Regions from separate parts of the Homo sapiens genome. Here region 1 is linked to region 2. A link means that fine-mapping ties the variant in region 2 to the expression of a gene that starts in the linked region. Tissue or cell type: amygdala. Region 2 holds a variant in brackets; the other region holds the start of a gene. All regions are shown on one strand. Distances are from middle to middle.

The links. PIP is the estimated chance that this variant, and not a neighbour inherited with it, causes the effect.
Region 1: ATG10 starts here. The variant in region 2 is fine-mapped to the expression of ATG10 in amygdala (GTEx, PIP above 0.99).

Annotation. Positions count from the first base shown.
Region 1 is chr5:81,968,454-81,976,734 of GRCh38, reverse strand. ATG10 (autophagy related 10) reads right to left here and starts at 4,712. Exons shown (of 8, transcript NM_031482.5): 1 at 4,429-4,712. RefSeq lists silencers at 4,312-4,551, 4,722-5,051 and enhancers at 4,066-4,621, 4,622-5,179.
Region 2 is chr5:81,722,970-81,730,969 of GRCh38, reverse strand. All of the region lies in intron 1 of SSBP2 (single stranded DNA binding protein 2), which reads left to right. Among named protein-coding and RNA genes, the nearest start is that of SSBP2, 24 kb to the left of the region's middle. The variant C/T (reference allele first, on the strand shown) is at 3,601.

The sequences.
Region 1 (8,281 bases), 250 kb before region 2:
AGGCATATTAATGAATTGGTCAGCTCCAGAATGCAAGCAATATGGGGCTGCACCAAAAGGACACAGTTAGAAGGCTTTTGAAGAGTGAACGGCAGAAGCAAGGCCAAGAAAATCTGTGATTGGTCAAAGTGGAGTAGCCTTACTTGGATCATTCCAGTAAAAGTCAGTGGTTAGAGGTTAGTTGATGGTTTCTGATTGGTTAAGCTAAAGTTTCATTTTCCTAGAATACAACCATTTACACTGAGTTTGGTGTAAGTCTGTTTATGTAGGAACCCAGGGCACTGGAGCTTCCTCAGGCAATGGCCTCCCAATTAATTATTTTAACACAGGAAGCTGTTTTTGCTGGGCAATAAATATGTTTCCTTCTTTCCTTTGACCACCATGAAGCTTGGAACTTTGTGGCCTACCTTTAATAACTGTACAACAGGCCGGGCGCAGTGGCTCACGCCTGTAATCCCAGCACTTTGGGAGGCCGAGGCGGGCGGATCACGAGGTCAGGAGATCGAGACCATCTTGGCTAACACGGTGAAACCCCGTCTCTACTAAAAATACAAAAAAAAAAAAAAATTAGCCGGGCAAGGTGGCGGGCGCCTGTACTCCCAGCTACTCGGGAGGCTGAGGCAGGAGAATGGCGTGAACTCGGGGGCCGGAGCCTGCAGTGAGCCGAGATCACGCCACTGCACTCCAGCCTGGGCGACAGAGTGAGACTCCATCTCAAAAAAAAAAAAAGATAAAATAAATAAATAAATAAATAACTCTACAACATTCACAGTATATTTTCAGTATAACTCACCCTAATCACATCTTTCTATTCAAGCTTCATATTTTTATGATCTTGATTCTCTTTATTTTGTATGTTATTATATATTATATAGTTTAAGCTACCTCAAATACTTTTGGAACAAAATTGAGTTTAAATTTAAAACTCTAAGCTACAAAAGTACAATAAAAAACAAAAAAGAAAAAGAAAACTAGATAGTAAGATGGGAAGAAAAAAATATTACACTGAGCCCCCAAATCATCCTGAGAGGTCTGAGACACTTTTTTTTTTTGAGAGGGGGGTCTCACTATGTCACCCAGGTTGGAGGGCAGTGATACCATCTCAGCTGACTGCAACCTCCACCTGCCAGGCTCAAGCAATCCTCCCGCCTCAGCCTCTTGAGTAGCTGGGACCACATGTGTGCACCACCATGCACAGCTAATTTTTTGTATTTTTTGTAGAGACAGGGTTTTGCAATGTTGCCAAGGCTGGTCTCAAACTCCTCAGCTCAGGCAATTTGCCTGCCTCAGCCTCCCAAAGTGCTGAATCACAGGCATGAACCACTGTACCCAGCCTTGGTTTAAGAGACTTTCAAAAAGAAGTATAATACAGTCTTTGCCTTCAATAGTTTGTAACCAAATATTTTTTTATTTTTCAGAATACACATTCTTCTCAAAGTAATCAAATTTTTAAGTAAAGATTCACATTGAAAAGAACATCAGAGAATAATGGATAACAAAAAACAGTGATAAATTGTACAACCACTGTTTAAAGAATTAGTATGGATTAAAATAATTAAAATTGCATATATTACTATGTATTAAGAACTAGTAACAAATCCTCAGAGCAACTTTTTGAGGTAAATTACTAGGATTTTCTTTATTTTATAGATAAGGAAATTGAGACAGAGAGGGTAACTTGTCCAAGGTAACACAGCTGTTAAGTGTAGTAATTTGACCTAAGGAAGTCTGGAACCAGAGCCTGGGCCCTACAGTAGTTAGATTTCAGTTAATCCTTGAATTATAGGAGGATATAGAAAGAAAGAAATAGAAGGGATGGGGCAGTGGCAGTGAACCTTGGAACAGATTGAAATGAGGTAGACCAGTAAAGAACCTGAATGGAGAGTATAGATTGAGGGATATTGAGAATCTGGGGACAGGGTGCAGGAAGTTTACAGTCTTAAAACTCAAAGGAAGCTTGGAGACATAGCTCTCGCCTTTAGTCCTCACTACTCAGGAGGCTGAGGCAGGAGGGCTGCTTGAGCCAGGAGTCACGGCTGTGTAGTGCCTTCTAATTGTGCCTCTAAATAGCCACTGCACTCCAGCCTGGGCAACTTAGAGACCCCACTTCTTAAAAAACCAAAAGAAGAAACCAAAAAACCCAAAGGAGATTCCATTTAAAACAATTGGCAATAGGAAACCAGTGTAGGTTCTTGAGCTCAGAAGAGATGATAAAAAGGTTTTCTCAGAAAGATGTTACATGACAGTGATATGAAATAACCCTAGCTTCAAAGCTACACTCCTATTACTAAGCCCTCTTCCTGGATCCTATAAAACTATGTGATCAGGTAAGCACATTAGAGAAGTCTTGTCTCTGCAGTTTTCAGCAACCATTCCCTAATTAAGATTCCTTCAGGTACAGCTTATTCTCCTATTCTCCATTCCCCAACTTTCTAATTGCTTTATTATACTCAGGCTGCTTGTCCCCTGAAAACATTTGTTTTCAATAGATAATCACCAAATGATCTCCATGGCTTTTTTTTTCTTAAGGTTCCCTGATTATATTTATGATTCAAACACAACCTCCTGGGTCCCAAACACATCTCTAGGTTTCAAAGATAATCAAATCAAGCCCATCTTAAGAAATCTTCTGTAAGCTTTACTCTCCTTGTTTTTCCTAAAGGGCTGCTTTACCTTTCTCAGAAATGTATTAGGCATCAGGAACTACTGTCGACATGTAGTTTGTCACAAAACATTATACATAACTTGAATGGCCCACCATGTACCAAAATCTCAGTTAACCTTATCCTAAATAAAACAGGAGACAAGGGAAATAATCTTTTAACACTCCACATTCAAATGTATGCAATTTAGAACTACTATTTCCACTAATTTCTTCAATTTAAAATATCAATAACAATTTTTAAACTCTGCAATTTGCAAGACTTTAATTTTAATTTCTCAATACTCAGGATTTATTTTTTGGTCAAAGTTCTGTAACATTTCCTCTGGTCACTGTTTAACCTTTCTGAAGCAATGAGAAAGGATTCTACTTGGAGTCCTAAGATGTATTTGAGTACCACACAGGGCCTATGTCCTTCCATCCTGAGAAGCATAAACTTGTTTTTGCCACTAAAGAATAGAGACCATTGTCCAATAACAAAAGTTATAAATATGACTCAAAATGAACCTGTGACAAAGATTTATTAAACTCACAATGGAACAAGCTGAATGGCTTAGTGTGCTCAAAAGCATTTCAGGAACTGAGCATAAACACTGAAGAAAGGATGGTAAGTTTGATAGGTTAGACAGAAAAATGGTTAATATTGGCCGGGCGCGGTGGCTGACGCCTGTGATCCCAGTACTTTGGGAGGCCGAGGCAGGCGGATCACAAAATCAGGAGTTCCGGACCAGCCTGGCCAATATGGTGAAACCCCGTCTCTACTAAACTTACAAAAATTAGCTGAGCGTGGTGGCGGGCACCTGTAGTCCCAGCAACTCGGGAGGCTGAGGCAGGAGAATTGCTTTAACCCGAGAGGCAGAGGTTGCAGTGAGCCGAGATCGTGCCACTGCACTCCAGCCTGGGCGACAGAGCAAGACTCTGTCTCAAAAAAAAGAAAAGAAAAATGGCTAATATCCTACAAGGCACTAAAACTACAACCTTTAGGAGTACTGTATTTTTTTCTCTCCCACTCAGAAATAATTTGCATCTCCATTAATGAAAAAGATGTTAACTACAAAGCCTAGGCCCTAATCAATATCATCATGCCAAACAAAATATAGTCCCCTAGACATCTAAATCATCTTCAGGTGGGCCTGTTAGGCTCCATTTTGACTCTGAAAAAAACATGCTGTCCTTTTGCCTTATTTCCAATACTTTTGTAATTTTTACCGCCACTAAAAGTTTCTATAAATCAGTCAACTATTCCTTTATCATTCTCCGGTCCTCCCCGCCAATTCTTGATTTTATAGGTTTTTTGGGAGGTTTAAAAAAAAAAGAAAGACCTGTTGGCTCTAAATATCAAGTTATTCCTCCTGATACTTAATCTGAAACTTCAAATTAAGTTGGACTCAGCCACTGGAAGCCCCAGTAATTTAATACTGTTTCAACCAAAGATTTGCTATCAGTATGTGGATTTTAAACACAAAGTAGTTACTACCCACTTCGAGGGTGCTTTGGGTACTGGGCCAGGTGTGCTGGTGACACCGTGTGCGCGACGGGGACCGGGTCCCCGAGGAGGGAGTGTCCTCGCCCTTCCCCGCTCGCGGCGGCCAGCACAGGCCTGCAGTTACCGGCGGGGACCCGCTTCCCCGGCCTTTTGTTCAGGACTGGGCTGTTTCCCGCCTACCCGCGCGTGCCCTTCCTCCCTGTCCTAGGAGTGGGGCAAGGACCGTGTGGGAAGCAGAGCCGGGAGGAGACAACCGGCAAGGGCTGTGGGGAATACTCACCCCTCTCCGCTCGGCCCCTGACCCCGCAGCCCAGCCCGGCGAGGGCGGGGCGACGGGGCCAGGGGGAGGAGAGCTGGGGAGAGGGACCCAGCGCCCTGCGAGGCCACTGCCGCGCCGGTGACCCTACGGAACTGAATGATGGGACTGCGGGGGCCTCGAGGGCGGAGGAAGAGCCGAGCCAGCGCGCCCCGAGGCCAACCAGAAGTGGCCGTGGCCTCCTTCAGTCAGGTCCGCGGCCTCCTTCAGTCAGGTCCGCCACGGCCGAGTCGGAGCGTGCGCACTGCGCCTTCCCGCGCCGTGGGGGCCGCCTAGCGCAGGCCGGTGACGTGATCGGCCGCGCGCTCTGGGCAGGGCGGGGCTGAGACCCAGGCCGGGACTGGGAGCGGGTGGAGAGGAGGGAAGCGAGACCTCCCCGCCGCCCGCGACCACCCCCGCCAAGGCCCCGCCCCTCGCCTGGCGGGCAGCTCTCCCCCGCCAACCCCCACCTCCAACCCAACGCAGGCGGTGCCCTCCGCGGAGCACAAAGGCGGCTCGTTGACGGGGGAGCGGGTTACTAGCATCCCCCTAAGAGGTTGGGGAACCATGCCAGCATGCTTACGCTACAAAAAGTCCTGTAAACACCACAATTAAGCACAAGCACGGCTACCCCTTGAAAACTTACGGATGGAGGGAGAAGTTAGGAATTCGAATATTGACAATAGTACCATCTGTGGCACATATCCCAGAGGAGAAAAAAAAAAAACTAGCAGCAAAATTAAATTGGGGCGAAACGATGGGGATAAAGACTAGAAAAAATGTAGGAGTAACAGGGGTAATCGAACTGAAATAGCAGACATCTGAAAGAAAACTAGCATCTGCTCCTTCTAACAACAGAGTTAAATTTGTTGGAAATGAAAGGAGAAAATGCAGGCGAAGAAGTGAAAGGAAAACCTGCCTTCAAACTACATGACATAGTTTTTTGATCTTGTACTACAGTTGTGTAAGATGTCACCATTGGAGGAAACTAGGTGATAGGTACACGGGACTCTAGGTGCTGTAGTATTTTTGCAATTTCCTGTGTCTATAATTATTTCCAAATAATAAGTGTTTTTAAAAGGAGAGAATACTGATCAGTGGCGACCAGGGCAAAGGGCTGGAGGAAGGGGGTGACTGAAAAGGAGCTTGAGAGCTTCTATACCGTGATTGTGTTGGTGACTAAACCACTGTTTGACAAAACCCATAAGAGGTATAAATTTTACTGCATGTGAAATAGTTTAAAACTCAAAATGATGCGACTAATAAAAATGAACTTACACTAACATTTTTTAGCAACTATGGATATAAATTAATTGGTAGCTGCCAATTTAGATTATCCATTTAATTTTTTTAAAAGCACAAGGCAGTGTGTTCTGAATGAGAGCTTAAGTAGACCAGGTGTCTCCATCAACTTTAAGTATTTACCTTAAAAACGTATTTCACAGATGAAAACAAGAATGCGGCTGGGCGCAGTGGCTCACGCCTGTAATCCCAGCACTTTGGGAGCCCGAGGTAGGAGGATCGCTTTAGCCCAGGAGTTCAAGACCAGCTATGGGCAAGGCAGTGAGACCTCATCTCTACAAAAATTTTTCAAAATAACAATAAATTTTTAAAAAAAGAATGCATTGCTTTACATTGTACTCCATATTTTAGAAACACAGTGCACCAACCACCATGTTAATTTAAAAAAAATTTTTTTTGCACTGGAGGTGTTTTAAAGTTTCATAATTCACATGCCAAAAACAAAGAAACTAAAAGAAATAACTCAGTTAACCTCCATGTACTTCCTCTCATCATATCCCTCATGGCAAAGAATGATATTGGCCTGTTTATGTGTTTACCCTACAACACTATAAACTGCTTTAAGGCTACGGTCTGTCATCATAGCATTTCAAGGTTCAAGCAGGGCTCCTGTAGCTCTCCTCTCTGATCGCTGAGGTTCACCGAAAAATCTACTCACAAAGGACAGAGTAATTGGAGGAAATGCATGCAAGTTTATTTAGCATATATACATGAGAACCTTCAGAATGAAGACCCAAAGATACAGGGGAAATTGTAATGTTCATTTGTACATCCAACAAAGTATGGACAGCCATGTAGAAATATGATTGGACAAAAGGGTATGCTCTAATGCTAATAGCCTGAGTGGGGAAACCCAGCAAGGCCTGTCTGTCTAGATTCTTCTTGGACTCTCTGGGCATGCATTCCTTCCTTCTGGGTGTAGGGCGGGACCCTCTCTGCAATGAGGGTCTTAGGACCTACAGTCAAAAAAGGTAGATCAGATAATTTCTTTATGGCCAGTTTTTACAAAGAAAGGCGGGAGAAAATTAAAGTAATATTTCCAGGATTTATGACTGGCTTTGGGGAAAAGAGGTTCTAGTTTCTATGGCCTGCCTAGTTTCTATGGCTAGTGTCAGGGGAGAATGGGACCAAGAGACAGGAAGGCAGGAGAAGGTCAGAGAAAAACTTTTGCTTCTGAGGCTGCTTCTGAGAGTTTCATTGTGGGGTATTATTTTCTAGTCCCAATATTCCTAACTAGTAGTAAGTATTCTTTGAATAAAACAAGGAATTGATCACAAAATTTATTGAACGCCTATTATATTCCAGAAGATTTATATGTACATAGTTAATCTCATAACTTCATGACATACCCATTTTATAATATCTTAATTATTAAATTCTTTTAATACTTATTTTATTAGATTTCTCTGTTTCATTTGGACATGTTGCTCACTTCTAAAAAGTCTTGCTTCCTTTCACTTACGTAAAACCCAGTCCCCTGATTCTCCTTCCAGCTCTGTGGCCATTCTTTTTTTTAAAGACAAAGTCTCCCGCTCTTTCACCCAGGCTGGAATGCAATGGCCTGGTCATAACTTACTGTAACCTGGAATTCCTGGCCTCAAGCAATCCTCCCACCTCAGCCTCCCAAAGTGCTGGGATTACAGATGGGATTACAGATGCGGCCATTCTTTTTTCTCATTGTTTTAGGCTTTTGTTTGTCCATTATACTTTAATGCTCATGTTTCACACAGAGTCTTCTAAAACTTGAAACTTCAGCTTTTTTGTTTTTTGTTTTAGTTTTCTGATACTCATGTAAATTTTTTTTAATTCAAAACAGGGTTATACAAACTGCATTACATTCAAAGTCATTTTCCTTTAACCAATAAACACTTTTATTACCAAAAATTACAAAGCAGTATAAATGTGTCTTTCAAAATATAATTACAGGATTTATTTTAAAATATAATTCATAATATCCTTTCAATAGTATGGTCCTATAAAGGGATACAAATTTAAAGTTCCATGGTAAATGTCTTATTTTCTCAATTTTGTCAGTTCTTATTACTTGCATGCATATATCCTTTCTGCTCATATCCCATAGGTCACATCTATATTCAAGGAAGGAAGAAAATGTAGCATCTAGCCATGGGCTCAGTCAAACCTTGACAGGGTGGGATTGTTTTATTATTAAAAGAAAGAAGAGAAGAATAGATACTAGGGAACAAAAGCTATCTCTACTGCAGCTTATAGTAGGCAGATCTCTTCCACCACCCTCCAGGAGGTTCTTAGGAAAAGATAAATTATATAAAAGAGTTAGAGGAGGTAATCTGATTGGATGGCAGAGATAAGAAACTTGTCTTGAAGCTGTGTGTGCATAGCACTTACTTAAAAGTGTGAGAGAAAAAAACACTAGTAGGCAAAACTATAGAGACAGTAAAAGATCAGTAGTTGCAAGAGTTTGGGGGAAGGGAGGCAAAGAGGGAAGAGATGAATACATGGAGAATAGGGCATTTTTTAGGACAGTGAAACTATGATATATGATACTGAAATAGTGGAT
Region 2 (8,000 bases):
CTTAAAAATGGTTAAGATTGTAAATTTTCTGTGTGCACAATAAAAATATATTAGAAATTATTTTCTTTTCATTTGCTTATTAAGTACGTTTTTAGTGAAGAATATTCTGGAGGTAAAATGTTCATCATTTGGCTCATCTCTCATCCAATATGAAACTGCTTCAATTTCATCACTTAAAAGGAACCTGAGTTTCTACTTTAGTTTGGACTGAGCTGTAAAAAGTCTTTTCTTTCCTTTCTACCAGATTGTATTTCTTTTTAAAATCTAGTCAATGGAAAATTAAAAGATAAGATATAAATCAGAATTATGACCTATAATTTATATTATGACTTATATTATACCAAGAACAAATGTATTTGAGAATCTCCTGCCTTTTTCGCTGAAGCTCAAGTAAAACTGTAGATTTTTAGATTTTTAGATGTTTTTGACTATGTAAACATTTCAAGACCAGGTGTGGTGGCTCAGGCCTGCAATAGCAGCACTTTGGGAGGCCGAGGCAGGTGGATCACCTGAGGTCAGGAGCTCGAGACCAGCCTGGCCAACATGGTGAAACTCTGCCTTTATTAAAGTTATAAAAATTAGCCAGGCGTGGTAGCGGGCGCCTGTAATCCCAGCTACTTGGGAGGCTGAGGCAGGAGGATTGCTTGAACCCAGGAGGTGGAGGTTGCAGTGAGCCGAGATCGTGCCACTGCACTCCAGCCTGGGCGACAGAGCGAAATTCCATCTCAAAAAAAAAATTCTTTTAAAAGTACACTTACTCTGTAATTTTGGTAATGATGAAGCGTTCATTTTAAAAATAGAGTAAAAAGTACTTGTGATTTATTTTCATGAAACAGGATAGAAATCCCTCATCTCATTTAATTAAAAAAGAAATAACCACTGGTAAAATCTGATCTTTTCCTTTCTCCAATACCTGTCAAGATTTACTTTGTATATCTGTATTTTCTAAAATTGTTACCCTATATCTTTTACATTAAAAATAGATTAATAATTAAGGGTCAATCCTTTAGAATAGGTATTTTAAATTATGTGATTTAGTCTATCTAGTGTATTTGCCTATTTATATAACTATTTATTTTGACCTATCTATATAACCACTTATTTCTCAGTCAACCCTCTGTAAGTGTAGATGTCTAAGTCTAGCTTATATATAACTTACAAGTTATATGAAAATACCACATTGTATCTCATAAATGTATACAATTACTTTTCAATCAAGAATATTAAAAATAAATATAATTAAAGGTTAAAAAAGCAAAAATATGCTGTCCTAGATTTCTCAGTGCTTTTAAAGTATGAAACATGTTCATTTTATGAATCACAACCTAATACTCATAGTGTTAAATACTATGAGAGTAAGCCTTTAAGTATAGAGTATTGAGTTAATACTCCTCAGTTCATGGCATGGTATTATCATTGGTTCATGTCAGGCCTTTCTGCTGTTTAATTGACATTCATTCATTTACTCATTCATTTATTCTCTATACCTGTTCCTCATTTCTACAACCCCCAGCCCCATAGGAAATCATTTAGACCTACCCATTTTGCTGTGTGTATATCCAGTTCCTATTTCTAATTGCTGCAAAGGGGATTTACTGTTTCACATTGTTTTATAATTGCTTGAAAATTCCTATCTTCACGTTATTTCTTTATATTTTTTTAAAGAGAGAAGCCAACCTATTTGAAGGTAGGCTAGTTCAGATGAACTTTTTATGCGCAAATATAACCTAATTCAGTGATTCATAAAAATGAGTAAGTTTAACACTTTGAAAGTATTGAGAAATTGAGGACAGCATATTTATTTTTTAACCCATTAACATTATAATTTTTATTTTTAATATTTTTGATTGAAAAATAATTATATACATTTATGTGGTACAATACGGTGTTTTGATATATGTATGCAGTGTGGAATGATTAAATCAGGCTAATTAACATATCACCTCTCTTACCTATCATTTTTTATGGTGAGACATTTGAAAGGTATTCTCTTAATTTTAAAATACAGAATACTGACTTTTAAGACTCAATAAGTAATTTAAAAATTAAACTTCATTCTCTATTAAACATCAAATTTAGTTTTTCTTTGTTACTGGTTATAGCATTGCATAGGGCCTCAGTTTTAGTAGGGATTCAGTAGATGCGTTGGTTTCATTTAATGCCATACCCACTAATTTGTTAATTGGCTTGGACATTTGCGCAAGTTAATTCATGCTTGGAGCTTTAATATTTTAAAATGATTCAGACATCAATCAAGCAACCAGAATTTATTACAAAATCTGTAAGATATATAGTTTCTAGTTTACATTCTCGATGTTGACAGCTTTCCTCGCCCAAATTATTGCATCTGATCCACACTATTATTGTGTGTGGTAAGCATGTCAGGCATTATATCCATTTTAGTAAAGGAGAAGTTGAGTCAAGGCATTAAGTGGCTTGCACAAGGTTATATGGCTGTTAAGTCATAGTCAGGACTATAACTGAAATTTTCTGACTCCTCGACCAATGTTCTCTATACCAATGTTTTCAAACTCTGTTATAGAAGGAACTGAAGGAGGTGACATAATATGAAATGAGGACAAGAGAGGCCATCTTAGATGAAATGTTTTATTTATTTAAAAAAAGATGCTGCCCTTTTAAGTAAAACTTTGAAAATCATTGCACTGTATTGTCGCCGTTTTTGTTTTGAAATGGAAGTGCTAAGTCAGATTTGTCAATGGTAACTCCAAAAAGGGATAAGAAAAAGTCATCTGTTCCTGAAATGCTTGTTGCATTTACATTATCTATCTTGTCATGTCACTCCCCATTACCTTTAGAATAAAACTTAGACTAACGGTGGTTCACAGGACGCTGAATTATCTGGTCCTTGCCTAATTCTGCAGACACATCTCTTGCTATTTTCCCTTTTATTCCTGATCCCCCATAGCCTTCTTTCAGTCCTTGAATATGCTAGCCCTGTGACACCTCAGGACAGTGTTCCCTTTCCCCAGCCCTTTCTATGGCTGGCTTCTTTTGATCTATCAGGTTCCAGTGGCCTTCCCTGACCATCCTTTCTAAAGTAGGTCCTCCCTTATTCTCCACCCTGTACCTTGTTTCACTTGTATCCTGTAACACAAAGTGAAATTAGTTAATTACTAGTAGACTCTAAACTCCATGAGTGCAGGGACCATGTTTACCATGTTTTCTTTTGAATCCTTAGTCACTTTGCCTATAGTTGGCCCTGGTTAAATATTTATTGAATGAGCAAATGTTGAATGAATTATGAGTTATCAAGAGATGCTCAATTTATATTTACTGTCCTCTGAGAAAAATCTCAAATTATACGCATTTGATGAATATTTCCATAAAATGATTTTAATGCATTAGTGCCTAATAGTTGTAGTCATGATTTAAAGAATGTTGCATGAGATTTTTTTTTTTGAGGTGGAGTTTTGCTCTTGTTGCTCAGGTTGGAGTGCAATGGTGCGATCTCAGCTCACTGCAACCTCTGCCTCCTGGGTTCAAGTGATTCTCCTGCCTCAGCCTCCTGAGTAGCTGGGATTACAGGCATGTGCCACCACTCCCGGCTAACTTTGTATTTTTAGTAGAGACAGGGTTTCT[C/T]CATGTTGGTCAGGCTGGTCTCGAACTCCTGACCTCAGGTGATCTGCCTGCCTCGGCCTCCCAAAGTGCTGGAATTACAGGCGTGAGCCACTGCACCTGGCCCATATTCTTCATATGTGATTAATACCCCCAACAATGTTGTGAAGTTAGTAGTATATTCTACTTTATAGGCAATGCAACAGACTTAGAAAGGTTTGTTGATATTTGCCCAAAGACACTTAGCTAGTAAGTGGCAGAACTGGGATTTGAACTTAGGTCTGTTTGTAACTAAAGTCGGCACTATTTTCACTCTATTTTGCCGCTTCCTAAATTAATGCTTAGGTTCTCTGGAAAATTTGCTTCTGATGAACACTTTCCTTTCCCAATGACGCTGGATAAATGGGGTGTTACTGTAATAAGGTGCTAATTGAATGGCGTACAGAGTAAGTGCAAAAGAAATTAAAGGAGGAAAAGGTATGTGCTGAAGTCATCAGGGAAACCTCATGGAGCAGCTGTGGGACTTTAGTTCATTCAATTAATGCTGTGAAAGTGTTCTGCATACTGGACCGTGTAGGATGAATGGGATATAAATAAATATAGAAGGGAATTGAGGGTATTTTAGTTTGGAGAAACTGCTTAGAAGTGTTGTGGGTATCCTGGAAGCAGTAGGGAGGACTAGTGTGACTGGAAGAGAGGATTTATCTTGGAGAAAAGTGGGATATTTGTTGAAAAAGTAGATGAGGATGATTGGGGGTATATAAACTATATAGAATTTAATTTTCTCTGTGGTTGCTAAGAGCAGTGTCATTGTGGGATACAATAACAGTTTAGGAACTTCAGTTGGTAATAGTATGCAGGTTTTAAGTATAATAGTGCAGCATTGGTAGCACAGTGAATAACAGTGGCAGTTCTGGCCCTGGGCTTGAATTCCACCCCTTTCACTTGCCGGTTTGTGAGCTTGGAATATTATTTCACTTACTGTACTGTTGTTTCTCCTCTGAAATGGAAATTGAACAGTAGAACCTTTGGCCTGATCCCAGAGATTATGATTCAGTGTGTCTAAGGTATGGGGCAGGAATACCCCCTCCTCCCAAATCAGATTTAGTTACATCTCCTATGTGGTCCCGGAGGGCTCTGTATTTGTTCAGTGTTTCTTTTCTGACCTCAGGTGCAAAAAGTTGAATTCATCAAACTCCTCAGATTAATGACAGACTATCAGCTTTTGGCAAGACTCCTCTCTTGTTTTATTTAAAATAGTTCTCATTTATCCCCAGTATTCATTCTAATTCTCTGCCTACATAGATGTTCGTACTAATGTTTTTTTGAATATGTCTGTCTCTTTAAAAAATATATGGTGCTGTTTTATGCACACATATTTTTAATTTATATAAATTATATTGTGCTAAAGATCTTCTGTTTCTTTTTTCATTCAACATGTTAAAATGCCTTTTATGATAGAAAACTTCAAACAGATCCAAATGTAGAGAAAGTATCAACCCACCATGTGTCCATCATCCAGCATCAACAATTATCAGCTCAGAGCTGATCTTGCTTCATATTATTAACCATTCCTCCCCTAGTGCCTCCTCCCCACAACTCCACCTCTGCAAACTGTATTATTTTGAAGCAAATCTGAGACTTTTTAAAACTGTATTTCAGTGCCAAAAACATCAAAAAACCGCTACCCATTTGGATCTCTGTATATCTGTTTCATAACTTGTAACTGCTCTAGGTATGTCAGTGAATGCACTTACCACATCTCTGGCCCTCTGGTGATGGTCACCTAGTTTGTCTGTAATATTCTGCTACCACAGACAACTTTGATTTTCATTTTCATACATGTCCTCTTATGGGCTTTTGGGAGAACTTTGATTTTTCAGAGTGGGATCTCTGGATAATAGGGTATATATACATATACTTCATTTCACTAAGTTTTGCCAACTTGATTTCCAGAATGTCTGTACTAGTGTACATTCTCACTAGGAGTACATAGTAGTTCTCTTTTCCTCCATTTCCACTGGCACTCTGTATTAACTTACATTATATTTTTGCCAATCTTTCATTTGTAAAGTGGTATATTATTTAAATTTTTATTTCTCTGATTATTAGTGAGGTTAGTTATCTCTTCACGTATTTGTTTTCTGTTCTCCTTAAGACCTCCCATTCTTGCTGTTTTATTATGCCTAAAAAACTCTTTCCCCTTATTCACGTGGCTCACTCACTCCATTCAGATCTCTTCTTAAATGTCATGTCCCCAGAGAGTTCTGCTTTATCTTTCATTGTCTTTATCACAACAAAACCTTATATTATGTTATGTATTTATTTATTTTCTCTGCTCAAGTTCCTTGAAGGCAGAGACCTTACCTGTGTTCACACCTGTATCCCTAGCACTTAAAAAGGTAAGTTCTCTATAAATATTTGTTGAATAAATAAACATGAATTGGCTATTTATATCCTTTGTCCATTTTGCCTACTCAATAGGAGCGTCTTGAATATTCTAGACATTAACCTGTGTTGGTTTTAGATGTTGTTATAATTTGTTATTTCTGTCCATCGTAGCTGCGTTTGATAAGGAATCCTTAATTTTCAAGTGGTTAAATCATCACGTCACAACATGTAAATCAACACATTGTGGTTTGTGTTTTTGTGGTCTGAAGAAATGCTCTTCTAACCCGATATTACATATCCCTCTCCATTTTCTATTTGCTTTATAATTTTATATTTTATATTTGGGTCTGTAATTTCTTAGGAGTTTACCTTTGTATAGGCTGTGAGGTGTGGGGGGTGATTTTATTTTTCTTCCTGTAGAATACAAGCAGTTTGCACTTTTCCTGCTGATTGGTAGTACACACTTACTATGTACGAATTATTTCTCATATTTCATTGATCAGTTGTCTATTTGTGTTTAGTATCAATGTTTTTTATACAGTGGCTTTGCACTGTGTTCTAAAGTCTGATAGGGCAAGTCCTCCCCCTTTTAAAAAATTGACTTAGCAACATTCGTAATAGGAACAATCAAGTAGCTAACCTTTAAAAAGAATGCAAAAGATCATTATGGAGTAATTATGAAACTCTATTAAAGGATATGAAAAAAGACATAACTAATAGAAGAGAATTACCATGGGATGACATAATGTTTTAAAGATGCCAGTTCTCCCCAAATTAATTTGTGTATTCAGTGCAACCACAGTAAAAATTTCAGTAAGATTTTTTGCATACCTCAACACACTTACTCTAAAGTTTATTTGGAATTTATTATAAATATATGTTGATTTAAAAAATAAATGTGTGCTTTCATAGTATTATGCTGTGTTTTTTAGTAATTAGTTTTTGCATTCTTATGGATGGGCAGTTGATTGAAAGCAGCAGAGAAGACAGAAGAGAGCAGCAGAGTTAAGTGTTTTGGTTAGAAGTGATAGAAATTGTAGTGGTAGCGCAAGTGGCACCTCAGCAAAGAAGCATAGAAAAGACAGAAGATAGAGAAGTGAGGTTGTTGGATAAATACATAACTCCTTCCTCAACTCTGGGGAAATGAATAGGTAGGAACAGAGGACAAACACTAGTCTATAATATTGTCCCTGTTGCTATGTCTTGGTAATGATATATACCGTGTCTGGTCCAACAGTCTATATGGAGTACTTACTGTCTGGGGCAATAGTATCTATAGGAGGTATTGAGATGTAGCTCAATAATTGATACTTGTGTAAGTAATGATGACTCAGAAATCAGGAAGACCTTTAAATATATTCTTGATGTTTTGTTTAAAGAGGCAGAGAAATGGGTGTTAATAGTTTCAATAAAAAACAGTTAAAGATATGCCTGCACTTGGGTTAATGCGCATCAATTTAGAGGTATCCAGAGCTACTCATTCTCCCAACTTTCAGGGTCAAACTTTTACTCTGTGTGTTTCTTTTATGTACCATTGTGAATACTTACAAGCTGCAGATAGAATAAAACTATTCTTTATGTTTTTATGGGGACTAGAAGCAAGAGAAAAATGGAGTTGGGGGAAATTAATTTGTATACTCTACTAACAACAGTAATCAACTACATTGACATCATTAACTGGTCATTATGAATTTTTCCTCTTCCAGAGAACCAAGAACCTTCTCAAGGGACAAATTACTAAATATATAACTCTTACTAACAATGTATAACAATTTGGGAAGAAGTTATGTAATCTCAAAGAAAGTGCTAACTACTCATTTGTTAACTTGTATAGAAACTTCTGTTATTCAACGTAGTCCTTTTATTCCTAAATGGATAAGCATTAAAAGAGATTTGTCTTAATTTACTTTCAAAAACTTCTTTAATTAGCATAAAGAAAGGAAAGAAGAATAAGAGTTTCTGGCTTTAAGTTAATTTTTCACATGGAGAATATATGTATAAATAATTACAGTATCATGTTAATAGATACTGGT